2 separate regions of the Homo sapiens genome follow, and region 2 is linked to region 1. The links come from fine-mapping of genetic effects on gene expression. A gene starts in region 1. The other region holds a variant in brackets. All regions are shown on one strand. Distances are between the middles of the regions.

Region 1 (16,530 bases):
TCAGTTTCCCTAAATAGTAAACAACACAGTATAGTGGGGGGAAATTAGGCTTCAGAATCAAAAGGACCAGGGTTCAAATCCTGGCTTATTAAGCAAGTGATATGGGGCAAGTTACCTCTTTAAGTTCCAGTTCCCTTATTTAAAAAGTGTTTAGCTCATGCCTGTAATTTCAGCACTTTGGGAGGCCGCAGCGGGTGGATCACAAGGTCAGGAGTTCAAGACCAGTCTAGCCAAGATGGTGAAACCCCATCTCTACTAAAAATACAAAAATTAGCCCGGTGTGGTGGTGGGCACCTGTAATCCCAGCTACTCAGGAGGCTGAGGCAGAGAATTGCTTGAACCCAGAAGGTGGAGGTTGCAGCGAGCCAAGATTGTGCCACTGCACTCCAGCCTGGGTGACAGAGTGAGACTCCGTCTCAAAAAAAAAAAAAAAAAAAGAGTTTATGGGCCAGGCACGGTGGCCCATGCCTGTAATCCCAGCACCTTGGGAGGCCAAGGTGGGCAGATCACGAGGTCAGGAGTTTGAGACCGGCCTGACCAACATGGTGAAACCCCGTCGTCTCTACTAAAAATACAAAAATTAGCTGGGTGCGGTGGCACGTGCCTGTAATCCCAGCTACTTAGGAGGCTGAGGCAGGAGAATCGCTGGAACTTGGGAATCAGAGGTTGCGGTGAGCTGAGATCGTGCCACTGCACTCTAGCCTGGGTGACAAAGCGAGACTCTGTTTCAAGAAAAGAGTCTAAAGCCAGGCATGGTGGCTCATGCCTATAATCCCAGCACTTTGGAAGGCTAAGGCAGGTGGACTGTGGGAGGCTGAGGCAGGCAGATCACTTGAGGCCAGGAGTTCAAGACCAGTCTGGGCAACACAGCAAAACCCTGTTTCTACAAAAAAACAAAAAAGTAGCCAGGCATGTTGGTACACACCTGTAGTCCAGCTACTTGACAGGCTGAGGTGAGAGAATTGCTTGAGCCTGGGAGGTCCAGGCTGCAGTGCACTGTAGCCTGGTGACACAGCATGACCCTGTCTCAAATAAATAAATAAAGTCCAAATATTACTTAATAATTAGTGACGGAAAGGAATAAATGAGGCTGGGTACAATGGCTCATGCCTGGGATCTCAACACTTTGGGAGGTGGAGGCAGGAGGTTCCCTTGAGTCCAGGAGTTCAAGATCACACTGGGCAACACAAAAATAAAACAATTTAATCAGGCATGGTGGCACACACCTGGAGTGCAATGGCACAGTCTCGGCTCACTGCAACCTCCGCCTCCCTGGTTCAAGTGATCCTCCTGCCTCAGCCTCCAGAGTAGCTGGGATTACAGGTATGCGCCACCATGCCTGGCTAATTTTTTTTTTTTTTTGTATTTTTAGTAGAGATGGGTTTCACCACGTTGGCCAAGCTAGTCTCGAACTCCTGACCTCAGCAGATCTGCCTGCCTCTGCCTCCCAAAGTGCTGGGATTACAGGCGTGAGCCACCACGTCCAGCCTAGAATTCTTGTTTATATGAGTTATATCTATCAACATTCACCACTGTAGAAACTAAAAGTATCATTAAAAAAAATTGTTTATTTATTTTAAAATAATAACCTATTACTCATTAACATATTCAATTTTTATGAAAAGTAACTATATTCAGGTTGAGTATTCCTTATCCAAAATGCTTGGTGGGATCAGAAGTGTTTTGGATCTCAGATCTTTTCAGATTCTAGAATATTTGAATTATACTTACTCAGTTGGACATCCCAAATCCAAAAACCTGAAATCCAAAATGCTCCAATGAGCATTTCCTTTAAAAAGCATCATGTCAGTACTCAGAAAGTTTCAGGTTTTGGAGCGTCTCAGATTTTGAATGTTTAGATTAGGAACACACAACCTGTATTCCTAAACAAAACAAAAACCTTACTAAGATGGCATTGTTTACATGTTTGCAAATATCTTTAATGTCTGATTTAACAGAAATAACTAGATTCTCATATCTGCTTCAGCATTCATTCTTTTTTTTTAAAAAAAAATTTGTTTTTCTTTAATGTTTGCTCTTGGCAGAATCATTCTATGTTCATTCTATTGCAATATGTTGTTCTGGTTGAAGAACATGAAGAAAAGCCATACATAGTTTGAAAACATCCTATAAATCCCCTGAAACGGTCTCAGAGATGCCCAGAAGTCCTCAGACCACATTTTGACAACAGCTGGTTTACAAGAAAAACAGAAAAGTTTATATAAAGAGAAAATTAAAAAACATACTCCAAACATGCCTACACATAATGATCCTCTGGAACTGATTCTGATTAAGCAGATGGGTGAGCCCCAGAATCCTCATATGTAACAAATGCCCCAGATGATTCTTATGATAAGAAGAACAAAATAAATAGAATCCCAATAATACAAAAATAGCCTAAATTTACCAAGATATAAATGTTTAGCCTCATTTTCAATAAGCATTAACAGATATTTCCATATCCCAGGTAAAACAGAACATAATCCTTTATTTCAAAGTTACATAATGGTGTAGAATTTTCAGGCACATATACCCTTGGCTCTCAAACAGCTCAAAGTTACTAAAGTTTATATCATAAAACCCAAGCTTAGAAATCTTTCAAAATAAATCTTTGATTACATAAGATTATAACTGCTCTCAGGTAAGGCAGTAAATGCTTGTTGCCTTCCAATACCATTCTTCCTTCTCCTTTTATTAATATAGGCATACCTTGTTTTATTGTGCATCATTTTATTGTGCTTTGCAGTTACCAGTTTCTACAAATTACAGGTTTGTGGCAAGCCTACATTAAGCAAGTCTATCAGCATCATTTTTCCAACAATGTGTTCACTTTGTGTCTCTGTGTTACACTTTGGTAATTCTCACAATATTTCAAACTTTTTTGTTACTATTGTATCTGTTACAGTGGTCTGTGATAAGTTATCTTTGATGTTACTATTGTAATTGTTTGGGGGCACCACAAACCATGCCCATATAAGATGGCAAATTTAATCAATAAATACATGTGTTCTGACAGCTCCACTGACGAGCCATTACCCCATCTCTCTCCCTCTCCTCAGGCCTCCCTATTCCGTAAGACACAACAATATTTGCAACTGGGGCAATGAATAACTCTATAATGGCCTCTAAGTGTTCAAGTAAAAGGAAGAGTCACACATCTCTCACTTTAAATCAAAAGCTAGAAATGATTTAAGTTTAATGAGGAAAGCATGTCAAAAGCTGAGACAGGCCAAAAGCTAGGCCTCTTGGACCAAACAGCCAACTTGTGAATGCAAAGGAAAAGTTCTTTTTTTCTTTCTTTTTTTCTATGCAACAGGGTCTCACCACGTTGCCCAGTCTGGTCTTGAACTCCTGGGCTCAAGGAATCCTCCTGCCTCAGCCTCCCAAAGCGCTGAGAATACAGGCCTGAGACACCACACCCAGCCAAAGGAAAAGTTCTTGAAGGAAATTAAAAATGCTACTCCAGTGAACACATCAATGATAAGAAAGTGAAACAGCCTTACTGCTAATGTGGAGAAAGTCTGAGTGGTCTGGATAGAAGAGCAAACCAGCTAGAACATTCCCTAAGCCAAAGCCTAATTCAGAGCAAGAGCGCAACTCTTTTCAATTCTGTTACGGCTGAGAGAGGTGATGAATCCGCAGAAGAAAAGTTGGAAGCTAGCAGGAGTTGGTTCATGAGGTTTAAGGAAAGAAGCTGTCTCCATAACATAAAAGTGCAAGGTGAAGCAGCAAGGACTGATAGAGAGCTGCAGCAAGTTATCCAGAAAATCTAAGAGAAAAGATGAAGGTGGCTACACTAAATAACGGATTTTCATTGTAGATGAAATAGCCTTCTGTTGGAAGACTATGCCCTCTAAGACTTTCATAGCTAGAGAAAAGTCAATACCTGGCTTCAAAGTTTCAAAGGATAGGATGACAGCCAGGTGTGGTCGCTCATGTCTGTAATCCTAGCACTTTAGGAGGTGGAGGCACGAGGATCCCTTGAAGCCAGGAATTTGAGACCAGCCTGGACAACAAAGCAAGACCCCATCTCTACAAAAAATTTAAAAATTAGCCTGGTGCATAAGCATATGCCTGCAGTATCAGCTACCAGGGAAGCTGAGACAGAAGGATCACCTGAGCCGAGAGTTCAAGGCTTCAGTAAGCCATGATTGCATCACTGCACTCCAGCCTGGGTGACAGAGTAAGACCACCTCAAAAAAAAAAAAAAGAAAAGAACATCTGCTTTGTAAAATTATATTTATGAAGAGTTTTTTGTTTTTTGGGTTTGTTTTTTTTTTGAGACAAAGTCTTACTCTGTTGCCCAGGCAGGACTACAGTGGTATGATCTCAGTTCACTGCAACCTCTGCCTCCCGGGTTCAAGCGATTCTCCTGCCTCAGCCTCCCGAGTAGCTGGGATTACAGGAATGTGCCACCAAGCTGCCTATTTTTGTATTTTTTTATTAGAGATGGGGTTTTACCATGTTGGCTACGGCGGTCTCGAACTCCTGACCTCAAGTGATCCACGCGCCTCAGCCTCCCAAAGTGCTTGGATTACAGGCATGAGCCACCACACTCGGCTTATTAAGAGTCTAATCATCTTACAAACTGTTTATGAGAATATTTATGAATAAAAGCAGACTCACAGTAGACATGTTTAGGAGACTGCTGCCCAGACTATGCTTTGGAAGTGTCCCTCCTATTGCAGGGGTGAGCCTAAGTGACTGCTACTGCTAGCGAAACCTTGTCTCCTAACCACAAGTGAACAAAATGGGACACCTGTCCCATGCTGAGCCAATCAGATACTCCAATATTAAGCTTCAGCCTCATTCCAGAAAAAGAGTTTGGCTAAAATTAGTACCATGGAAACCCAAAGTCAAGCAGAGTAACGGGGGAGCAGAAACTGAGGCCACTGCAGCACAAACCAGCTTCAGCATGGAGAAAAGAACAGACATGCAAAGACCAAAGACAAAAAAAAACACACAGCTCCAGAGACAAAGGCCTGGGGCTTTCCAAATCCCACAGGTTCATCCTTGCTTCCCACACACTTGGATTCCAAAAGACTGCCTGGAATCCTTACAATCACTGTCCCTTTACTTAAGTTTATTTGAGGTTTCTGTTCCTAACAATCAAGTTAATCCTTGACAGATACAAAATTATATAAAGAAAAAAAGTATTAACAAAAATGCCGAATATTAATAGCAGTTGCCTCTTAGTAGAATTAAGAGTGATATTTTCTAGTGTTTATAATTTTTCTTTTTTTTTGAGACAAAGTCTTGCTGTGTCGCCAGGCTGGAGTGCAGTGGCCCGATCTTACTGCAACCTCCACCTCCCAGGTTCAAGCGATTCTCCTGCCTCACCCTCCCGAGTAGCTGGGACTACAGGTGTATGCCACTGCGCCCAGCTGATTTTTGTATTTTTAGTAGAGACGGGGTTTCACCGTGTTGGCCAGGGTGGTCTCGATCTCTTGACCTCGTGATCTGCCCGCCTCGGCCTCCCAAAGTGCTGGAATTACAGGCATGAGCCGCCATGCCCGGCCTAGTGTTTATGATTTCTTTACTTGCCAAGTTTTCAGCAATGAGTATGTTATTATTCACTCAGAAAAAAAAAAAAAACTTGAATAAATAAGGTAATTCTGTATTCGGATAATTAAGGCTTTACTAAATAATTGGTAATTTCAAAGCTAAAAGTGAGGTACAGTATATCAAACCCAGGAGGTTTCAAACCTTGTTCCAGAGGACACTTTGATTCTGTGGTAATGCCTCCAGAGCCACTTCAGGGGAAAAGAAGCTCAGCACACCCCCTGCAGTCAACACCTTGTTCAGTTTCTTCCTAGCTCAAAGACCTCCTTAACCCCCTTCACTTAGGACAGGGCCTTAAAAGACATTTTATGCAAGGTGAACCACTCCCCCTTCTACTCAGGGCTTTAGCCAATTGTATCAGAGTAGGAACCTGCCCCAAACCAGGCCAGATTATCTTCCTCTGGCTTTGGAAGTGAGTTAAAGATTCACTCTTTTTCACTGAAGTGGCTAAAAACGTTAGCTTCTCACCTTAAAGATCAGAGAAGGGCTGGGCATGGTGGCTCAACACCTATAATCCCAGCACTTTGGAAGACAGAGGCAGCAGGACAGTTTGAGGCTACAAGTTTGAGACCAGCCTGGGCAACATAGCAAGACCCTGTCCCCACAAAAAAAATTAAAAATAGCCGGGTGTAGTGGTGCATGTCTGTATTCATAGATACTCAGGAGGATCCCTCGAGTTTAGGAGTTCGAGGTTGTAGTGAGTTATGATCATGCCACTGCACTCCAATCTGAGGCAGACCATGTCTCTAAGGAAAAAAAAAAAAAAAAGTCAGGTGCGGTGGCTCACGCCTGTAATCCCAGCACTTTGGGAGGCTGAGGCAGGTGTATCACTTGAGGTCAGGAGTTCAAGACCAGCCTGGCCAACATGGTGAAACCCTGTCTCTACTAAAAAAAACAAAAAAACAAAAAAAACAAAATTAGCTGGGCAGGCCAGGCGCGGTGGCTCATGCCTGTAATCCCAGCACTTTGGGAGGCTGAGGTGGGCAGATCACACTGTCAGGAGATCGAGACCATCCTGGCTAACACGGTGAAACCCCGTCTCTATTAAAAATACAAAAAATTAGCCGGGCGTGGTGCGGGTGCCTGTAGTCCCAGCAACTTGGGAGGCTGAGGCAGGAGAATGGCGTGAACCTGGGAGGCGGAGCTTGCAGGGAGGCGGAGCTTGCAGGGAGACGAGATTGCCCCACTGCACTCCAGCCTGGGCAACAGAGCAAGACTCTCTCTCTCAAAAAACAAAAATTAGCTGGGCATGGTGACATGCACCTGTAGTCCCAGCTACTTGGCAGGCTGAGGCAGGAGAATCACTTGAACCTGGGAGGTGGAGGTTGCAGTGAGCCGAAATTACACCACTGCACTCCAGCCTGGCTGACAAAGTTAGACTCTGTCTTTAAAAAAAAAAAAAAAAATCAGAGAAGGGGAAGAAGGCAGTTTGCAGGGAACATGAAATATAAACAAGATCTGCACACAAAAAAAGAGCAAAACCAAGAGGTTTCCCTGGTTCTGAACTCTAGCCATTTTCTGAAGCCCTACTAGGTTTATGTCTTAAATAGCTGGAAACCACATATATGGAACCACATACATGATTTCATCTTACTCAGCCTTTTCCTAGTGGAAAATTCACAATGTTCATATTTTTAAAAGATCCAGGAAGCAAAAGGTTAAGAACTCCTGACCTAGAAAAAACTCTATACAGTGGCATACACTATGGAAAATGAAATTCAAAATAAGTCCTTTAATAATTCACATTTTTGCAGCATCTCAAATATATTTTCTGTTTATTTGGTCAAAAAACATATTCACGTTATAAAGAATGTCCCAAATAATGAGAATCCAAAAGAATCTCCTTTAGCTATTTAAAAACACAATCAACTACAACAACCCATTCTTATGCTTTCTGGTTAAATTGTATCTTGCTGTACATATAACTTCAGGTTAACATGGCAAGGTGAATAATAAATGGCTTATAAATCTCTTACTCAAAATCTTTGGGAACTGTTTTTCTTACTTTAATAAGATAAAGAATTGCTCACATATTCACCTATTCTATCAAAAGTATTTATAGAATGCCACTAGGTGCCAGGCACTGCATTTGGCCTTATCAGCTACTATGATTAATTCTTGGTTCTCCTCTAAATTATTGCCTCAATCTACAAATACAGATTAGAGCACATCCTATTTGTATGCTCCACAACTAACATAATGCCTGGTTCTTAGTGGAAACTTAATGTCGCTGAACTGTGTTATAATAAAACATCCAGAAGGCAGGCCGAATACGAAAGCAGTAGCTTCGCATTAAGAAAACTACCCCTAGCCAATTTTCTTAGTCAACCAGGCCACTACAGTATTAATGAAATCGAAATCTGTCACCAATACCAAAAAAAAAAAAAAAAAAAAAAAACCAAAACCAAAACGTCTAAACAAACGCCCTTCTGATAACAATTTCCTTGGACACATGAAAGCAAGCAATTCCTTATGCTAAAAAGACCTTCAACAACGTCAAGAATAGATGTTTCTAAAGCCTTTCGGTAAGGGGCCATACATAAGAATGGAAAAGTTGACTGATTGACAAGCAAATGATGTTCCCTATATTCATCTTGACAGTAGTTTCACACCAACTGTTCCAGAGGCAACATAAAAAAAAATAACAGAAATGAGGCCGGGCACGGTGGCTCACGCATGTAATCCCACCACTTTGGAAGGCCTAGGCGGGCAGACCACCTGAGTCGGGAGTTCGAGACCAGCCTTACCAAAATGGAGAAACCCCGTCTCTATTAAAAATACAAAATTAGCCGGGCATGGTCGCATGCCTGTAACCCCAGCTACTCGGGAGGCTGAGGCAGGAGAATTGCCTGAATCCGGGAGGCAGAGGTTGCGGTGAGCCAAGATCGCGCCATTGCACTCCAGCCTGAGCAACAAGAGCAAAAACTCCGTCTCAAAAAAAAAAAAAAAAAAAAACAGAAATGAGGCACAAAAGGAGGAAAGGGAGAAAATGCGTGCTGAGATAAGCATTTCGACTCAGGCTGAGGGAAACGCTCAAACAGTTACTGCAAATGACTAAAACAATCTGAGCCTTAAAACTTGGTTGTGCAAGTTCGGCTACTAGAGTTCATCATCTGTTATGGGCATTGTTCTTGAAAAAGTACCAAACAAACATCCTGCCTGCGGGCTTCTCCGGGTGGGTGCTACTAACCCTTTTAGTTAATTCTGTGACTCTGCGTTTAAAAGAAATAAAGAAAGAACAGGATGAACATCAACAAGTATTTAGGAGGGGCCTAGAGAGAACTTTTCACCCCTAGCCGCAGCCCAAGATCCTCCCACGGGAAGTGCCGTAGGACCGCAGCCCGAAAGAGCGCGGGAGGGGAGACTGGCCACGCCCGGATGCGCCGCGGACAGGGTCCTGGCCGGTCAGCCCGCGGGCCGCTGGCTTTGCTGCAGCCGCCCCGGCGCAGGGGAGGAGCGCCGAGAAAGGGCGGGGCCGGGCCTCACCTCCACGGCCTGGCCCAGCTCCAGGTCGAAGCCCACCACACACACGCAGTGCAGCCAGGCGGAGAAGCTGTCCCAGCGCAGCAGGCCCCGGCCACGGCCATCGTCCTCTTCATCGTCCTCTGGCGCGCCTCCCGCCGCCACAAGGGCCGGCGCCTCGCGGCCCTCGGCCCCTGCCACCGCTTCGTCCAACGGCCTTCGAGAGCCGGGCCCCAAGCCCGCAGGGCCCCTCAAAGCCATCGGCCGCCCCCTGACCGTTCGCGCCGCCTCCACAGCGGACCGCGCCGCAGAGCGCGCTTGCCTCCGCGCAGGCGCAGACGCTGCTGTCGCAGCCGCTGGGGACCCACTCAGTCCGGGCGGGGCTGCGGGTCACGTGACCCTGGGAGCGGACGTGGGGACGTCACGCTGCCGCTTGTCTCGGATTGTGAAGCCGGTCCTGGCTTCCTTGTCTAAAAGCTCTTTGGGACTGAAATGGCTGTTTATGAATCCTTGTCAACCTCGTTCGCAGTCAACGACCAGGGAATAAATTATTCGTGGAATGACACAGTTCATAATTATTATAAGGTATTATTAAATTATGAAAGCGTAGGCCGGGCGCGGTGGTTCACACCTGTAATCACAGCATTTTGGGAGGCCGATGCGGGCGGATCATCAGGTCAGGAGTTCGAGACCAGCCTGACCAACATGGTGAAACCCCGTCTCTACTAAAAATACGAAAAAATTAGCCAGGCGTGGTGGAGCGCGCCTGTGATCCCAGCTACTCAGGAGGCTGAGGCAGGAGAATCGCTTGAACCCAGGAGGTTACAGTTAGCTGAGATTGCGCCACTGTATTCTGTCTACCCTGGGCGACAGAGCGAGATTCCGTCTCAAAAAAATAAAAATAAAATATATGAACGCATAATGGTGACGGTGGCTAACATTGAACGCTTACTTTGTGCCAGTTGATATGCCAAGTACAAGTGCGAATACTTACAAATATTACCTTATTGAATCTTCACATAATCGCAAATAAGTAGACTATTTATTTCTTTTTACAGATAAGGAAATGGAGGTCCTGGAGGTTACATGACTAGCCCAACAAGTATGACAACTCCGATATCGGCTTGCGGTTCACTCATTCAGTTTGCTGATTCAGAGATCTGTGCATTCACTCACCTGTTCCTTCTCCAGCAAGGCCTCCCCACCCTACCACCTCCTCCTTTCTTAGTTTGGCTGTCTGTGACTCACTCAACACACATCCCCAGACCTTTCTGGAACTCCAGGTTGGGCAGATTGGCCTCCACAGCAACCTGTGGATCTCTGAACACTGGGGCAAGGGCCTGGTCTCAAGCAGCTTCGTATTCTGAGATCAGTTTTTACTGAGTATTGGACCAGCCAGGATACTAACTAGTATTTATTCAGCACCTACTATGTTGAGTATAAATAGCATAGTAAAAGTAGGAAACACACAATAATACCTCAACAGAAAAATGAGTAAACCAGCGAGGTGTCACGCCTGTAGTCCCAGGTTCTTGGGAAGCTGAGGCCGGCTAAGTTCAAGGAGGATCGCTTGAGCAGGAGTTCCAGGCTGCAGCGCGCTATGATCGCGCCTGCGAACAGCCATTGCACTCCAGCCTGGGCAACAGAGCGCGACTGTGTCTCTAAAAAACAACGCAAAACAAAAAACACGGCAGAACTTAAGCATTTTGCTGCACTGCCCAGTGAAATCCATTCCATTTGACAAATACTGCCCTCTTAACATTCTTAGAATTTTTTTTTGGAGCAAGTGTTAGCGTCCCTGTTTTCAAGGAGGTGGTCAAGTATGCACAGACATCAGTAGTGACGTTTGCTGGAGACTTCCTTTAGACAAAAATGAACTTAGGGACAGCACTTAAGTTAGAGGCCAAGTCTTTGGCCAAAGTAGCCTGCCATCCTACTCCAGAGAACTGCTGTGGTTAAAAGAGGAAAAACTGTATTCTGCGATCAAGTAAGGCTCTAAACCCAGTATTAGGAAAGAACAGTAGCCTTTTGTATTAGAAAGAACACTGGCGTGGAAGTCAAAAGTTCTGGATTCTAGTGCCAGCTAGAATCTACCACGATCGTGGTAGGCAAGCTGCTCCAAAACCCAGTTTCTGGTAAATGAGAGTGATGATTACTAACTCACCTCACTGACTGTTGGGAAAAGCTAAGCTATCCTAATGTACACATTTTACCAGATGCTACTTCATTATTAATTATTAATGATCTCAAAACACCAGTTGTGGCCAAGCACAGTGGGTCACACCTGTAATCCCAGCACGTTGGGAGGCTGAGGCGGTAGAATCACGTGAGTCCAGGAGTTTGAGACCAGCCTGGGCAACATAGGGAGGCCCCGTCTCTTAAAAAAAAATTAAAAATTAGCTGGGCATGGTGGCACACACCTATAATTCCAGCTACTTGAGAGGCTGAGATAGGAGAATCACTGGAACCCAGAAGGTCAAGGCTGCAATGAGCCATCACTGTGCTACTCTACTCCAGCCTGGGCAACACAGCAAGACCCTGTGTCAAAAACCAGCACCAAAAAAGAACATAAGTTGTTCCACAGGGCTGGTTCTTCGACACATAGACACAAACTGCGATTCTGTGAAGTGTTGCTTTATAATATTGGGTTAAGGAGAAGGTCAAGGCTGCAGTGAGCCATCACTGTGCCACTCTACTCCAGCCTGGGCAACACAGCAAGACCCTGTGTCAAAAACCAGCACCAAAAAAGAACATAAGTTGTTCCACAGGGCTGGTTCTTCGACGCATAGACACAAACTGCGATTCTGTGAAGTGTTGCTTTATAATATTGGGTTAAGGATGATCTTGTCAAAATACAGTACCCTGAAAACAACATATTAGGAGAGCCAGAAGTTTCCAAAGAAAGAAAGCACACCAAAGCTCTAGAGAATTTTGAAAGTAAAAAACTTGTTTGGGGAGAAAAAAAACAAAAACAGAAAAAAGCATTACTTAAATCTTTATACACAGAAACAGAATAACCACTAGGGTAAACAAAGCAGCTATGGCTTTATTTCCCTCTACCTTCGTAACTTTGACATTCTGCCTTACAGTCTATTTTCACACAGTTTCTGTTGTTAATGGGAGCTGAGGAACAAGGTACTGACACCTTCTTATGGTTCATCAAAAGAACCTTTGACTCTGAAAGGATCTTGGATAGGATCATCTCTCCAAACTTCCTATTCATGGATCTTCTGACATTCAGTTAGCCAGCCTCTTTTCTAACACTCTCTATTAAAGTTAAGTCACTAGCCTGTGATCCCAGCACTTTGGGAGGCCAAGGCCGGTGGATCACCTGAGGTCAGGAGTTCCAGACCAGCCTGGCCATCATGGTGAAATCCTGTCTCTAGTGAAAATACAAAAATTAGCCAGGTGTGGTGGTGCACACCTGTAATCCCAGCTACTTGGGAGGCTGAGGTGGGAGGATCCTCTGATCTGGGGAGGCAGAGGTGACAGTGAGCTGAGATCACACCACTGCACTCCAGCCTGTGCGACAGAGGGAGACTCCGTCTCAATGAATAAATAAATAAATAGCCGGGCGTGGTGGCTCACGCCTGTAATCTCAGCACTTTGGGAGGCTGAGGCAGGTGGATCACTTGAGGTCAGGAGCTTGAAACCAGCCTGGCCAACGTGGTGAGACCCTGTCTCTACTAAAAATACAAAAAATTAGCCAGGTGTGTTGGTGTGCTCCCGTAATGCCAGCTACTTGGGAGGCTAAAGTGGGAGAATCACTTAAACCCGGGAGGTGAAGGATGCAGTGAGCCAAGATAGCACCACTGCACTTTAGCCTGGGCGACAAGAGCAAGACTCCATCTCAAAAATAATAAATAAATAAATAAATAAATAAATAAAGTTAAGTAACTACCTTTCAGAGCTACTATTTTCTGGGTGTTCATAAGGGCTAGAAAGTTCTTCCCTTTACAGAGACAAAATCAGCTACTTTGTAATACACACCCATTGGTCTAAGTTGTGCTTGCTGAGATTACACAGAAGAGTCCAACTCTTCTACATGATAACCCTGCGAACGTTTGAAAATAGTTATCCCACACCCACATGCCTTCTAGTTTTCAGGGTAACTACCCCACATCCTCCAACCGTTCCTCAAAAGATGTAGTTTCTAGGCCATTCATCATCCTGTTGCCCAACTTGGGCATACTCCAACTTGTCAACATCACTCTTACAGCCTGGGAGGAAATACCATCCTCCAGGTGTGATCTTAACATTGCAGAATGTACTCTGGGACTATTCCTTTCCTTGTCCCAGCCACCAGGCTTCTTTTAATGCCAGTTCATATCACATTTACTTGTTTTGGCAGCCAGGTCACATCACTGGCTCAGGTTGTATTTACTGTCAACTAAAGCCCTGGATCTCTTTTCATGTGAGGAGCACTTAAGTCAGGGTAGACTGTGTTAGCCAAGAGCATGACTAGATTCATGGCTCTGCTGCTCTTCTAATATTACCAAGAACATGGAACACAGGATTAAAAACATTCCAAACTTCTCTACTCACCCCTAACCAAAATCCTGGCAATTCAATAGTTTTAACAGAAGAAAGAAAAAATAAAAGGTTGAGCATCAGACAATGGTGTGAATTGTGAAATGCATTATCAGGTCTCTGGGCTTAGTTTTACCAAAAGGACCCACAGGGAGTCCAAATGTCCTAGATATTTACCTAGATGGGCAGCCAGGGGACTTCCCTCTTGCACTTAAGGTAAATGCTGCCAGGGCTGCTGGGACATAACTATACTTGCGGTGGTGAAAAAAATACATGGAAATATACACAGAGGCCCAATACCAATGTGTTATCAATAGAAAACTAAGTTTACTGCTGTACTTCTCTGGAAGACAAAAATGCTCAAATACAGATTTTGAAGGGAGGATCCAGCCAAAGAAAACTATAAAATGCACGATCAGGGCCAGACGCCATGGCTCATGCCTTTAATCCCAGCACTTTGGGAGGCCAAGGCAGGCGGATCACTTGAGGTCAGGAGTTCGAGACCAGCCTGGCCAACATGGTGAAACCCCATCTCTACTAAAAATATAAAAATTAGCTGGGCATAGTGGCATCCGCCTGAAATCCCAGCTGCTCAGGAGGCTGAGGCAGGAGAATCACTTGAACCTGGAAGGCAGAGGTTGCAGTAAGCCAAGATTTCACCACTATACTCCAGCCGGGGAAACAGAGCAAGATTTCATCTAAAAAAAATAAATAAATAAAATAAAAAATAAAATGCACTATGAAGTTTTCCCAGGTTGTGACAGCTTTAAAAAATGGTGGTTGGGTGTGGTGGTGGCTCAGACCTCTAATCCCAGCACTTTGGGAGGCCAAGGCAAGAGGATTCTTTAAAGCCAGAATTATGACAGCACACACCTGTAGTCCTAGCTACTCAGGAGGCTGAGGCTGGAGGATCACATGAGCCCAGGAGGTCAAAGCAGCAGTGAGCTGTGATTGCACCACTGCACAGCCTGGGCAACAGAGTGAGATGCTGTCCCCTCGACCGTTCCAAAAAAAAAAGAAAGAAAGAAAAAATAATGAAGAGCTGTTTTTTTGTTTTCGTTTTTACATTCTTATTATTGATACAATGCCTGGCATGTGGCAGGCACTCAGTAAATATTTAATGAATGAATGAATGCACTTTATTTTATTTTATTATTATTTTTTGAGACGGAGTCTCCCTCCGTCACCCAGGTTGGAGTGCAGTGGCACGATCTCGGCTCACTGCAAGCTCTGCCTCCCAGGTTCACGCCATTCTCCTGCCTCAGCCTCCTGAGTAGCTGGGACTACAGGCGCCTGCCACCACGCCTGGCTAATTTTTTTTATTTTTAGTAGAGACAGGGTTTCAACGTGTTATCCAGGATGGTCTCAATCTCCTGACCTCGTGATCTGCCCGCCTCGGCCTCCCAAAGTGCTGGGATTACGGGGTGAGCCACCGCGCCCGGCCATGAATGCACTTTAAAAAAGCATCTTGACTTTAGGAGGCCAAGGCAGGCGGGTCACAAGGTCAAGAGATCGAGACCATCATGGACAACATGGTGAAGCCCTGTCTCTACTAAAAATACAAAAATCAGCCAGGCGTGGTGGCACATGTCTGTAGTCCCAGCTACTTGGGAGGCTGAGGCAGCAGAATCACCTGAACCCAAGAGGCAGATGTTGCAGTGAGCCAAGATCACGCCACTGCACTCCGGCCTGGCGACAGAGCGAGACTCTGTCTCAAAAACAAAAAAAAAAAAAAACAAAACAAAAGCATCTTGAACTGCTCTTTCCTTATTTTAAAGAATTTTCCTTTTACTGTCACTTGTATGAATACATGAAAAGTTAACATAAAAATGTTTCTTAAGTGTAATGCACTCTTAGCTTAAGAAAGTAAAGATAACACTCCACTTATTTAAAGGTTACTTTTTGGCTAGGTGCAGTGGCTCACACCTGTAATCCCAATACTTTGGGAGGCCAAACTGTGGGAGGAGTTAGAGACCAGCCTGGGCAACATAGGGAGACTCCATCTCTACAAAAAAATTTAAAACATTAGCTGGGCATGGTAGCCAACACCTATAGCCCCAGCTACTTGGGAAGCTGAAGCAGGAGGATCTCTTGAGCCCTGGAGTTCAAGGCTGCAGTGAGCTATGATCACGCTACTGTACTACAGCCTGGGCAACAGAGCAAGATCCTGTCTCTATTAAAAAAAAATAAGTAAAATAAAAATAAAGGTTACTTTTCCAACTGTCTGATGCAGTTAGCACTAGGAAGTGGGTTTAATAGGCTCAATATAAGCCAAAATGCAAAACGGAGACTATAATCAAATGCATACTCTTCAATCAAAGAGATGTGAGGTCTTCACTCATAAGTTATTTTGTCTAGGTTTACACATAGTTCTGGCTGGTCCAAGTGCAGTGGTGTTTACAACTAATTGAAACTAATTGAACACTACCAATTAGAGATTTCTTCTTCTTTTTTTTTTTGAGACCAAGTCTTGCTCCGTCACCCAGGCTGGAGTGCAGTGGCGCAACCAATTAGAGATTTCTTTGTTCCTTTTCTACTCCCACTGCTTTGACTAGCCTTAAAAGTAATAATAAATTTACACATAATTTTAATAGATTTACTTGTCTGGTTTCCCAGACTAAGAAGCAAATAAGAAGAACAAAGAGGTTGCTTGAGGCAGAGCATGACAAGAGCAGAAAACAAAACACCATAGGTTAATAGAATAGAAGGAAAAGATAAAAAGGAGTCAGAAAACAAAACTTTAGATTATGCACAGTAAATTAGTAGTCTTTCCTTATAAGGCATAGAAGTGCCAGGAAATAGGCCAGGCGCAGTGGTTCACACCTGTAATCCCAGCACTTTGGGACGCTGAGGCAGGTGGATCACCTGAGGTTGGCAGTTCGAGACCAGCCTAACCAACATGGAGGAACCCCGTCTCTACTAAAAATACAAAATTAGCCAGCCGTGGTGGCACATGCCTGTAATTCCAGATACTCA
Region 2 (13,248 bases), 120 kb before region 1:
AAAAAAAAAAAAGTAAAGCACTTGTTTTCAATGACAAGTTAGGAGTCACTTTCAAACCTCCATGACAAAGAACCAGGTATTTCACATTTAATTAAATTTGGGCAAGGCAGAGTGGCTCATACCTGTAATCCCAGCACTTTGGGAGGCCTAGGTGGGTGGATCACTTGAACTCTGGAGTTGAAGGCCAGCCTAAGCAACATGGCGAAACCCCATCTCTACAAAAATTAGCCAAGACTGATGGCGTGGGCCTGTAGTCCCAGCTATGTGGGAGGCTGAGGTGGGAGGATCGCTTGAGCTTGGGAGGTTGAGGCTGCAGTGAGCTGTGATCATGCCACTGCACTCCAGCCTGGGCGACAGAGCGAGACCCTGTCTCAAAAAAAAAAGTTTGATCATAGTAAGTGACCTGAAAGTAATTACTACTGCCTGAAAGATAATTCTGTATACTCAAGTAAACTGAAGTGTCTGAATGAGACACCAATACTCTCCACAAAAGATACACTTCTTTTTTTTTTTTTTTTAATAGAGATGGAGGTCTCACTATATTTACCAGGTTGGTCTCAAACTCCTGGCCTCAAAGGATCCTCCCGCCTCAGCCTCCCAAAGTGCTGGGATTACAGGCATGAGCTACCATGCCTTTTTTATTTTCAATGGAGGGTATATAAGGTAAGTGGAAAATTTCATGGAAATTGAAACTCTTAACAAAATATCAAGATATTACATCACAGAAAAGCAGCTTATGTTAAAGTGAGACAAAAGACAATGGGAAATGTTATGGACAAAAAAAAAAAAAAAAATGCTTATTGGACAGGGGAACCAGAGAGCAGATAATCGTACTATCCTCAACTCTGATGCTGCCAAGTGATCCTGTAAGGGAATCACAATTTCTCTTCAGTTTCTCTACTGACATTATTTGACAATTAGTTGACAGAATACTTTTTAATCTAGGGATATAATCAACTGTTCTGTACAATAGGGGCGGTCACAGAGAACTCTTATTGCTTGACCAACAGTAGGTTTAACATTTGAATGAACAGTAAGCATTGAATCTTGATAGCATCAACTATTTCATAATACTTCAATAAATAAGGACAGTGACAGTGATTTTATGTTTGCATAAAACAGGGAAAGGCTAGGGGTTATCTCTCAATACTTTCTCCCAAAACATTTAAACCACTTCTGTTTGGAAAAAGAAAAAAAGGAACTTTAAAAAAAAATACAAAGACTGAAGAAAAAATAATTTTTAGGGGTAAATGTGTCAAGTTGCTAATACTTTATTATTATTATTATTTTGAGACGGAGTTTCACTCATTGCCCAGGCTGGAGTGCAATGGTGCGGTCTTGGCTCACCACAACCTCCACCTCCCAGGTTCAAGCAATTCTCCCACTTCAGCCTCTCGAGTAGCTGGGATTACAGGCATGCACCACCATGCATGGCTAGTTTTGTATTTTTAGTAGAGATGGGGTTTCTCCATGTTTGTTAGTCAGTCTGGTCTTGAACTCCCAACCTCAGGTGATCCACCTGCCTCGGCCTCCCAAAGTGCCAGGATTACAGATGTGAGCCACCCCACCCAGCCTAATACTTTCTTTAAAAACTATAAAAATTACCTGGGCATGGTGGCTCATGCCTGTAGTACCAGCTACTTGTGGGGCTGAGATGGGAGGATCACTTGAGCCCAGGAAGTAAAGGTTTCGGTGAGCCAAGATCCTGCCACTGGACTCCAGCCTGGGTGACAGAGTAAAACCATCTCAAAAAAAAAAAAAAAAAAAAAAAGGTAATTTCCAATGGTACTAAGAGCTGCTTTACATCACGAGTAAGATTACATAGATTCTCTAGTCCCTTTACAGTCCATGTAAACACCTTTGCATAACTAGGTTAAATACCTAGCCCTAACGCTGAACTTATTCACTGATGTTTTATATTTCCTAGTTGATGCCCCATAAGACTACACACACAACAATTATACTATAGTTCAGTTTTATCCTATAGGAAATGACACCTGTCTTCTTTGGAAGGAAGAAAGGAGAATTCATCCAGTTGGCTAGGGAAATTGCATTTCTAACAAGTAACACAAACTAAACATACACTTTGCCCTACCTAATCATCAACCAATTCTAATTTCCTTTTGGTTAATCCAGTGTTTTTTTTTTTTTTTTTTTTGGAGACAGAGTCTTGCAGACCGTGTGCAGTGGCGCTATGTTGGCTCACTGCAACCTCTGCCTCCCAGGTTCAAGCGAGTCTCTTGCCTCAGCCTCTCAAGTAGCTGGGACCACAGCATGCACCAGCACACCAGACCCTTTTTTTTTTTTTTTTGTATTTTTAGTAGAGATGGGGTTTCACCATGTTGCGGCTGGTCTTGAACTCCTGAGCTCAGGCAATCTGCCCACCTTGGCCTCCCAAAGTGCTAGGATTACAGGTGTGAGCCACCACGCCTGGCCATTGTTATTTATTTGACAATTCAAAAATATACATTTTTTTAAAAGTATGCATTTGATTTTGGAATTTTCAATCCATAAATTTAGCTGAATCTTTACAAGCCATTAAGAATGCAACATGAGAATATAGACAGAAACTAAGTTACTCAGTTATCAAGTTGAGCCCTTAAAACTTAATAGATGTAGTTTATGAGGTATACCTTTGTATGAATTATATGCAGCTTTCTGTTAAAGTTCTAAAATTTGCCCTGTTAAAAAGAAAAGTGGTTGTGAAACTTTTTTGTAGGAAAGTAGCATCACTAAGTCTCTATATTGGCCATACAAGTAGCACCTGAATTTTTTTGTTTAATTAACCTTAACTAAAAAACACATACATACATGCTTTTTGGGCAGTTCATTTTATTACAGCCTTTTACTCTCCCTACCCCACTCCACATGCCGCCCCTCCCCACCCCCCACCTGATTTTTTTGTTGTTGTTGTTTTGTTTTTAGTTTTTTAAGTAGAGACAGGGGAAACAGGGTCTTACTACATTGCCAAAGCTGATCTCAAACTCCTATTCTCAAGTGACCCTCCTGCCTCAACCTCCTAAAGTGCTAGGATTACAGGCGTGAGCCACCATGCCAGGCCCTCCTTTTACCCTTGATCTGACTTTAGAAAACTATGTTTTTAATAGTGTTCCCCATGCTGTTATACACATGAAAACAATCTAGATCTCCACTTTATACAATTAGTAACCTACCAGTGGGATCTGTGTTACTGTTCACAGTACATAAAATATGCAAGCAAAGTTGGCTACATAAGAAAATACATTTCAAATACCTTCAAAACTCAAAAAGAACACACACAATTACGTATTTTATCATTTTATTAGGAATAATTCCAAATGGGTTATGAAGAAAATGTATTCATCGAATTTGATGAGTTTTCCAAAAACTCTTAATGAAGATATGTCTGCCCAATAAACAAAACATCAGCAGAACTATCATATACTGAGCAAAAAATCAGGCTGATAACAAAAGCAACATGCAACATAAAAAAGACACAATATAAAGGAAGACAATCTGCTGAGTATTAAAAACCATCTAAATATCAATTCTTTGCAACCAGCACAGAACTAATTGGCTATCAAATCCAAACCCCACCAAGGTTAAGTTTGGCTGATGTAGGCCAGGAGTCAATGTAGGGGGAAAAATTTCCTCAGTGCAAGAGAGCTGAGTAGTGTTTTGGATCTTTCTCTGGCTGGTACAAGCAGTATTAGAAAATCTTTTTGGCAAGGGAGAGAAATAAATACAAATGGAATGCTACATTTTTAAATTAGCAAACTGTCTCAGGAATGATAAAGGTATCAGTAAAGTAGCAAGGGGATAACTTTAAAACATTATTTGTCTGGGGCTCAAAAAACACTCAAAACAATTTATTTAAAGGTTGCACAAGAGCTATGTCCAGGCATTTACGCTTATGGGAAGTAAAATTAAAAGAGGATACTTTTTTCCCAAGGAGAATTTCTTTAAAACCAAGCACATTGCTAAATAGCAACATTATACTCGGTAAACAATAATTGGCAACAAAATAAGTTTAATATTCTGCCCAAACCAGTCCCAGATACTGTTTAATAACCAAGATACAAACTAATTTTGTTGTAACAAGCCTAGACCAATTTTATCAAACATGTCCTTGGTTAGATATCCAATTTCATTTAACGTTTTGAAAGCTCATTTGACAGCCAGTCAAGTCCTTCATACAGACCAGTTCCTTGTGTTGCACAAGTGGCTTGAACATACCACTGTAAAGAGAAGACAAGAAAATACTTGATTAACAAAGTTAATATATAACACCAGTGTTTAAACTTTCTTAATCAAACTTAAGAGTCTTTTCACACCTCTTGCATCTCACAAAACTCTCCCATATTTAAAGCTACTTCTGGCTGGGCGTGGTGGCTCACACCTATAAATCCCAGCACTTTGGGAGGCGGAGATGGGAGGATCACTTGAGCTTAGTAGTTCGAGACCAGCCTGGGTAACATGGTGAGACTTTGTCTCTACTTTTTTAGATTAAATTATTTTTTAAAAATAAAGCCACTTCTACCTATTCTGGAGGTTGCAGTGAGCCGAGGCTGTGCCACTGCACTCCAGCCTGGGCGACAGAGTGAGACTCCGTCTCAATCAATCAAGCTACTTCTACCTATTCATTATATTTAGACAAGATTTTCCCCCCTCATTCAGCTTTCTTTTCAGTGCTGGTTTTTGGTTCCCTTTTAGTAAACTTTCTACCACTTAATCTGAAAAAAGAAATCATGGGGAAATTAGTAACTAATAAACTACCCATCTGGTTTTTATAACTCTCGTTTCCCATAAAACTAAACTCAAAGTAGAAGAGGCAAATTTTTGAAAGAGTAGGGTTTGTTAGGCCGGGCGTGGTGGCTCACACCTGTAATCCCAGCACTTTGGGAGGCTGAGGCGGATGGATCATGAGGTCAGGAGATCGAGACCTTCCTGGCTAACGCAGTGAAACCCTGTCTCTACTAAAAATACAAAAAATTAGCCGGGCGTGGTGGTGGGCGCCTGTAGTCCCAGCTACTCAGGAGGCTGAGGCAGGAGAATGGCATGAACCCAGAAGGCAGAGCTTGCAGTGAGCCGAGATCGTGCCACAGCACTCCAGCCTGGGTGACAGAGCAAGACTCCATCTCAAAAAAAAAAAAAAGAAAGAAAGAAAGAGTAGGGTTTGTTGATATTTTAAGGGCAAGCTTTTCAGACAATTTCACCATCTTTAGTCTCATGCATTCCAAAACGTTCTTGCTTTTAAATGGCAACGAATCTTATCTCTAGTAACTGTGTGAAAGTATCAAAAAAAACCTAGAAAACAATTTACATTTAAGGCATAGTTTACTTTTATTAATTTTTTTGACCAGTTTAATGTTGCAAGGCCACTGCAGGTATACCATGTTGCCAATTATTTGAATACCAAATCTCAGTAACCTAGGAGGCTGGGGAAAGGCTCAAATTCATACCTTCACAGCATGGAAAACTTGTATCATTTACAGTTAGTGTTGCTTGCTTATTTATTGATTGATCGACTGATTGTTTTGAGGCAGAGTACTCACTCTTGCCCAGACTGGAGTGCAGTGGCGTGATCTCGGCTCACTACAACCTCCGCCTCACAGGCTCAAGAGATTCTCGTGCCTTCAGCCTCCCAAGTAGCTGGGGTTACACACATGCACCACCACGACCAGCTAATTTTTGTAATTTTAGTAGAGACAGAGTTTTACCATGTTGCCCAGGCTGGTCTCGAACTCCTGGTCTCAAGTGATCCGCCCACCTTCGCCTCCCAAAGTGCTGGGATTACAGGTGTGAGCCACCACACCCGGCCCAGTTTATGTTCTTCAAATCAGCCTGAGATATCTCAAACAGGCAATAGGTTGTTTTTTTTTGTTTGTTTGTTTGTTTTGAGACGGAGTCTCGCTCTGTCACCCAGGCTGGAGTGCAGTGGCGTGATCTCGGCTCACTGCAACCTCTGCTGCCTGGGTTCAAGTGATTCTCCTGCCTCAGCCTCCAGAGTAGCTGGGCTTGCAGATGCCTGCCACTGCACCTAATTTTTTTGTAGTTTTTAGTAGAGATGGGGTTTCATCATCTTGGCCATGTTGGTCTTGAATTCCTGACCTCATGATCCACCCACCTCAGCCTCCTAAAGTGCTGGGATTACAGGCGTGAGCCACTGCACCCGGCCTGCAATAGGTTCTTTGTTGTTTGTTTCATTTTTTACCACAGCCACAGTATTTCCCTTATTTACAGGTTAATGCAAAACTACTGTAAAAAGCCTATGACACTAAGTTTCTGATAATTTATCTCCATCACTGAATCACTGATCAATGATAAGCAATTTTAGAGAAGTACAAATTTTTTTTTTTTTTTTTAAAGAAACAGTCTTGCTCTGTCACCCAGGCTGGGGTGCAATGGGCACAATCACAGCTCTCTGCAGCCTCCAACTTCTGGGTTCAAACAGTCCTCCCACCTCAGCCTCCCAAGTAGCTGGGACTAAAGGCACATGCCACCACACCCAGCTAATTTTTATTTTTGTAGAGATAGGGTTTCACTTTGTTGCCCGGGCTGGTTTGGAACTCCTGGCCTCAAGCAATCCTCCTGCCTTGGGTTCCCAAAGTATTGGGATTACGGGTGTGAGCCGTGGTACCTGGTCTCCTCCATAAACTGTTATGTTAACAAGCAAACAAGGCTGGGCACCATGGCTGGAATCCCAGCGCTTTGGTAGGCTGAGATAGTGAGAGGATTGCTTGAGTCCAGGAGTTCAAGACCAGCCTAGCAACAAAGCGAGACCCCCCATCTCCACTTTTTTTTTGAGACCGAGTTTCGCTCTTGTTGCCCAGGCTGGAGTGCAGTGGCGCGATCGCGACTCACCGCAACCTCCACCTCCTGGGTTCAAGTGATTCTCCTGCCTCAGCCTTCCTGAGTAGCTGGGATTACAGGCATGCGCAACCACACCTGGCTAATTTTGTATTTTTAGTAGAGACAGGGTTTCTCCCTGGTTGGTCCGGCTGGTCTCAAACTCCCGACCTCAGATGATCTGCTCACCTAGGCCTCCCAAAGTGTTGGGATTACAGGCATGAGCCACCGCACCCAGCCCCCCATCTCCACTTTTAAAACAAGCAAACAAACATTACTGGACCCTTAATAAGAAAGCCAGATTTCAAAATATTTGCTGTAGGGTTACTTAAAAGATACAAAATTAAAATTAAGACTATCAATAATCTTCTTTCCATTCCTTCCACCTCTCCCTTCAAAAAAAAAAAAAAAGAAAAAAGAAACTATCAATAATCTTTAGACCTATTCTACAGTAGTTTTCCGTTTCTTTACAAAAATCAAATAAGGTATTTAAAGTTTATTACCATATTTTTAAATAAATGATGTGCTCATTATTTGTCCAAAGGAGATAATAAATGTTTAAACTGAATATTAGCTTACACAACTATCCTAGTAAGTCTTAATAGTCAAGAGGTTAATATCAACCTCCAAATACTTACTGTTCTGTTACGAAGAGACTGAAGCCCTAGTTTATCTGTCATTTCACTGATGGCCATAGCATTTGGCAAATCCTGTTTGTTTGCAAAAAGTAGCAGCACTGCATCTCTCAATTCATCTACCAGAAGCTGGAAATAAAAGGTAAGGCATTAACAACTACCAACCGGAATCCAATTTTTGAAAATGTCTTCCTATATATACTTTACTCAGCATTAAATACATTATTAAACATTAACCTAATTTCTCGACACAAAGTTCACTCTTACAACTGAAGTCTCATATCCTTCAGTTTTTAAATCCAGAGCAAACAATCATATGCCTTCAAATAAGACAGAACTGTTTTCCAAGTCAATCATCCTACACCCCATTAAATTAAAGCAAATCACTCATCATTCAGCCTTCATGATTACCCATTGTCAGGACTGATAAGGGCAAGAAATACATGTGGGAATAAAATGTTTATGGCAGGTTCTTATGGTACTTAGTAGCAGAAGTACTTAGATAGATGATGATTCTTTTCGGACTTCTATCCTTTCCAACAACAGTGGGACAATAACACAATTATCTGGGTGTTGGCAGTATCATGAAATATACAAAAAAAAAGTACCAAGAACAGAAGTTGTACTGATGCATGATGCAATATAGACGAACCCTGAAAAATTATGCTAAGTGAAAAAATCAGTCACAAAAGAACACATTGTATGTTTTCATTTATATGAATGTCCAGAATAGGTGACTGTATAAAGACAAATTAGTGGCTGTCAGAGGCTGGGAGTGTGGTGTACGAGAGGAAGGAAATGGGAATGACTGCTAATGGTCCAAGATTTCTTTGAGGGTGATGAAAATTTTCTAGTATTAGATTGTGATGATGGTTGTACAACTATGTATGCTAAAAGCCATTGATATGCACATTTAAAAAGGATGACATTTATAGTGTGTGAAGTATGTCTCAACCAAGCTTTTTTTTTTTTTTTTTTTTTTGAAGAGGGAAAGCTGGTGACATTTGACTCAGGCAAAAATCCAACAATGACTTAGTTACACATATACTGGCACAATGGTTTTACAAACTGCCCTCTAATCTTAGGAGGAATGAACAAGAATTAAGATTTCATTTCAGTAAATATTTTATGGCTACAAGTTTAAAATCATGACAAGGATTCTCAGCAGTCTTCCTCCATTTAGTACATTTAACAACATGAACACATGAAAACATTAATCCAATCTATGGGAAGGCTGCAAAATGCCACTGTGAACCAAACATTTGTCTCTACTTTCAGAAGGAATTCCTTATCCTTAAATGGTTACTATTAAAAAACATTTCTGAAGTAATTATTGGCACAGCATAGAGAAAATGGAACCGATGACCTTGGGAACAAAACATCTGAACCAAGATTCCTAGGGTCAAAACCACTACAGCACTATAGATTTGATATCTGTAAAGTAAGGGACTGAGCTAAATCAGATATCCTCAGCCAGAGATAGGCATCAAGATTACCCATGAGGCATTCTAAAAAAAAAAAAAACAACACTGCTCTGCCTTCCTCCCAACTTACTGAAGTAGCTACTCTTCCATGTGTTTTTTAAAACGCTCTATAAGAGATTTTGAAGTACATTATTAAGAACCTGTGGATAATATAGTTTCTTAAGTTTATTTCTAGCCCCCCCAATCCATTTGTGTAATCTAATCATAGTCAAAATGTACTAAACCACCACCAGTTTAATCCAGAAAAGCACACCTTGAAAATGATGAATTTAAAGTATATTTCTTACCATTTTCTGCAGCTCATCTGCTACTTCCTGAATTCTTTCACGATCGTTGCTATCTACCACAAAAATAAGACCCTGGGGAAAAATTGTTTCAGTAAATTTTAACAGTTAAACGACACTCTCTATATGAAACAGTGTAGGCAGCAAAATGGTACCAATGGTTAGACATTAGGAAGAAAATGTCTCTTTAAAAGTAAGAACTTAAGGCTGTAATGCTAAAAGCTGATTTGAGAACTATTTGTAAGTTTAATTTATTAGTGCTATTTCAAATCTAAAAAATTTTTATTCTTCACCAATTAATTACTTTTCTCAACTACCCTAAGAATAAATTGTATCTATTTTTCCCCTTCCCTCTGCACTCTCACATTTAAGTGCAGGTACCAAAATAGCCACAAAGTAGGAACAAAAAGAAAAATAACAAATCAAGGATCCTAAAGAATCGTGAATTTGGCCAGGCATGGTGGCTCATCCTGTAATCCCAGCACTTTGGGAGGCTGAGGCAAACGATCAGGCCTGAAATTGCTTGAACTCAGGAGTTTGAGACCAGCCTGGGCAACATGGCGAAAGGTCATCTCTACAAAAAAATACAAAAATTAGCCAGGTGTGGTGGTGCATGCCT[T/G]TAGTCCCAGCTACTTGGGAGATGAGGTGGGAGGAATCACGAGCCCGAGACGGAGGTTGCAGGGAGCTGAAATCGCACCACTGCACTGCAGCCTGGGTGGCAGAGCGAGACCCTATCTCAAAAAACAAACAAAAAAACCCCATGAATTTACTAACTGAATTAGCTTACTGACTCAAAGGCATGTACAGAGTAATAAAAGGGGGGTGGGATAGCGCGAGTGTGTACACTACAGTTTTTATCTGCTTCATCATGGAAGGAAAAAATTAACTTGCTTCAGAATGCTGCCTGCCAACTCTAGATCAGGAAGACATCTTAAGAAAATGATAGCAAGAAAAATCCAAGACTGGGCGCAGTGGCTCACTCCTGTAATCCCAGCACTATGGGAAGCCAAGGCAGGAGGATCACTGGAGCCCAGCAGTTTGAGACCAGCCAGGACAATATGTCAAAACCCTATCTCTTAAAAAAAAAAAGAAAGAAAAATTCAAGATTTACCTGATCGAGTAAGACATTCTTTAAAAAAAGGAAGGTAGTTATCAATTCTTAGAGATACAAATATTAGCTTCTTTTCTCAGACAGGGTCTCAACTCTGTTGCCTAGGAGCACAGTAGCACAATCTTGGCTCACTGCAGCCTTGACCCCCTGGGCTCAAATGATCCTCCCGCCTCAGCCTCCCAAGTAGCTGGGACTACAGGTGCGTGCCACCACACCTAGCTAATTTTTCTATTTTTTGTAGAGATGGGGTTTCACCACGTTGCCCATGTGGTCTCGAACTCCTGGACTCAAGTGATCCACCCATCTTGGCCTCCCAAAGTGTTGGGATTACAGGCATGAGCCATGGCACCTGGCCCATTATTAGAATTCTATACTACAAAATAAATGGAAGGAATTAGGAAGCAACTAGTTGAACTGTTTTTCTAAGAACTTTCAAATGGGAAAGTATAGAATTTTCAGCTAGAAAAGGGGGGGGGCAAAAATAAAAATAATAAAAAAGAAAAAAAGATAAACCTTGACTCCTAAAGTATCAATTTTGATCATGTCACTTATAACAGATTGTCTTGCACTACTGATTTATGTAAGTAACGAGGCTGGTTGAGGTGGCTTTCGCCTGTAATCCCAGCATTCTGGGAGGCCGAGGCAGGTGGATCACCTGAGATCAGGAGTTCGAGATCAGCCTGGTGAAACCCCATCTCTACTAAAAATACAAAAATTAGCCGGGCATGGTGGCACACCTGTAATCCCAGCTACTTGGCAGGCGGAGGCTGCAGTGAGCCGAGATGGCGCCATTGCACTCCAGCCTGGGCGACAAGAGCAAACTACATCTCAAAAAAAAAAAAAAAAAAAAGGAACTAGATTACATCCACTAAGGGCAAAGGACTATACTATATCTTTTTTTTCACCCAGGCTGGAGTGCAGTGGTGCCATCTCAGCTCACTGCAAACCCCTCCTCCCAGTTTCAAATAATTCTCCTGCCTCAGCCTCCTGAGTAGCTGAGATTACAGGCGCCCACCATTACACCTGGCTAATTTTTGTATTTTTAGTAGAGATGAGATTTTACTATGTTGGCCAGGTTAGTCTTGAACTCCTGACCTCAGGTGATCTGCCTGCTTTGGCCTCCCAAAGTGCTGGGATTACAGGTGTGAGCCACCGCGCCCAGCCCCATCCTACATCATTTTCTGTTTACCTCTCAGGATTACCACAGTACTGGGCTCTCCAGGAGCATCTAACACTTATTTTACATCCATTAAATGACAATTTCCTTTGTTTTAGCAAATTGTAAGTCCATTTCCTTTATCTCTGTTGGAAACCATAACTTAATTTTTAAATTTTATTTTACACTGCATCTATACCACCTGGAAAACCATCACTTTAAATATCCTATCCTTTGAGAAAACTTTTGGCTGGCATGGCACCTCTAATCCCACCACTTTGGGAGGCTGGGGTGGGAGGATCACATGAAGTCAGGAGTTCAAGATCACCCTGGGCAGAGTAAGACCCTGTCTCTACGAAAAAAATTAAAATTTTAGTAGGGCATGGTGGCACATGTCTATAGTCCTAGCTACTTAGGAAGCTGAGAAGGGAGGATCACATGAGCCCAGGAGGTTGACTGAAGCTACAGTGAGCCATGATCATGCCACTGCACTCTAGCCTGGGTAACAGAGTGAGACCCCATCTCAAAAACAAAAAATAATGTTTGATGCTTTGGGAGCCAATATAGTGTGGTGGGAAGACAGACTCAAATTCAAATCTTATACTACTTGTTATATATATTATCTAATCCTTGACTATGCCTCGTCTAAATAAAATAAAAATACTAACTTCATAAGCTTGTTAAAGATTAAATGCAATCACAGAGATATAAAAGATCATTGTTCTTGGCTTATCATGGGCATTTATTTAGCAAATATGTCTCCTCCTTTCCATATTTCAAAAGCTACTCCTTTTTAGAACCAAACCTTCCATTTTTTTGTTTCTTCTTTTTTTCAAAAAAGAGGCAAGGTCTCCTTTTGTCCCCCAGGCTGGAGTACAGAGGCGCAACTGTAGCTCACTTCAGCCTCCAACTCCTGTGCTCAGGTGATCCTCCCACCTCAGCCTCTCAAGTAGCTGGGACTACAGGAGTATGCCACCATGCCCAGGTAATTTTTTTTTAATTTTTTTTTGTAGAGACAGGGTTTCACTCTGTTGCCTGGACTGGCCTCAAGTGATCCTCGTATCATGGCCTCCCAAAGTGTTGGTGTTTCAGGCATAAGCCATAGCACCCGGTCCTGAAACCTACCCTTTACAAGAGGTAATGCCCCTAAAAGGGACCTAATTTTATTTTGACTGCTAACTTCCCATTTTTATTCTTTTTTTTTTTTTTTAAATGTAAAGACAGGGTCTCACTATGTTCCCCAGGCTGGCCTCAAACTCCTGAGCTCAAGCGATCCTCCCACCTCAGCCTCCCAAAGTGCTGAGAGTACAGGCATAAGCCACTGCACCCAGCCTTTGTTTTAAAATGCAAATAATGCTATCAGTCCCAAAGTGACATTATTGAGAAGGAGAATTATTTTAGGTATTAATCCCTAATTATTTTCTTCCTGGAACAGCCTAGAATCAAGAGTGAAGAAAAGCTAGGATTCTACAGATAAGCCCAGCTGCTATGAAATTATTTGAAAAGCCAAATATTTACTTATTTACAATGGCAAATTAGTTGGAATTATAAGAGGAATTTACTACACACTGTGCCATGGTTTGTTAGTATAAGTTAGAAACATGGTTAAAGCTATAGTTTCTTTTAAATTTTATAGCTAGGAGAACTGATCAGTAATGCTGGGAATGCAAGCTAAGAGCTTAGCTTTGATTCTATCAGGTAACACATAAAGCTTTCCCCAGCTAGCATGAACTCCCTAGGAAGCAGTACT

Evidence for each region. PIP is the estimated chance that this variant, and not a neighbour inherited with it, causes the effect.
Region 2: its variant is fine-mapped to the expression of DENND6A in whole blood (TOPMed, PIP above 0.99).

Annotation. Positions count from the first base shown.
Region 1 is chr3:57,683,734-57,700,263 of GRCh38, forward strand. It overlaps DENND6A (DENN domain containing 6A), which reads right to left and starts at 9,344. Exons shown (of 20, transcript NM_152678.3): 1 at 9,049-9,344. The coding sequence starts at 9,285. DENND6A-DT (DENND6A divergent transcript) reads left to right here and starts at 9,472. Exons shown (of 2, transcript NR_135550.1): 1 at 9,472-9,609; 2 at 10,083-12,918. RefSeq lists an enhancer at 8,672-9,172 and silencers at 8,894-9,133, 9,244-9,343.
Region 2 is chr3:57,568,082-57,581,329 of GRCh38, forward strand. ARF4 (ARF GTPase 4) reads right to left here. Exons shown (of 6, transcript NM_001660.4): 4 at 9,235-9,306; 5 at 7,467-7,592; 6 at 3,282-4,217. The coding sequence ends at 4,131. It also overlaps a transcript of PDE12 not described here. Among named protein-coding and RNA genes, the nearest start is that of PDE12, 18 kb to the left of the region's middle. The variant T/G (reference allele first, on the strand shown) is at 9,851.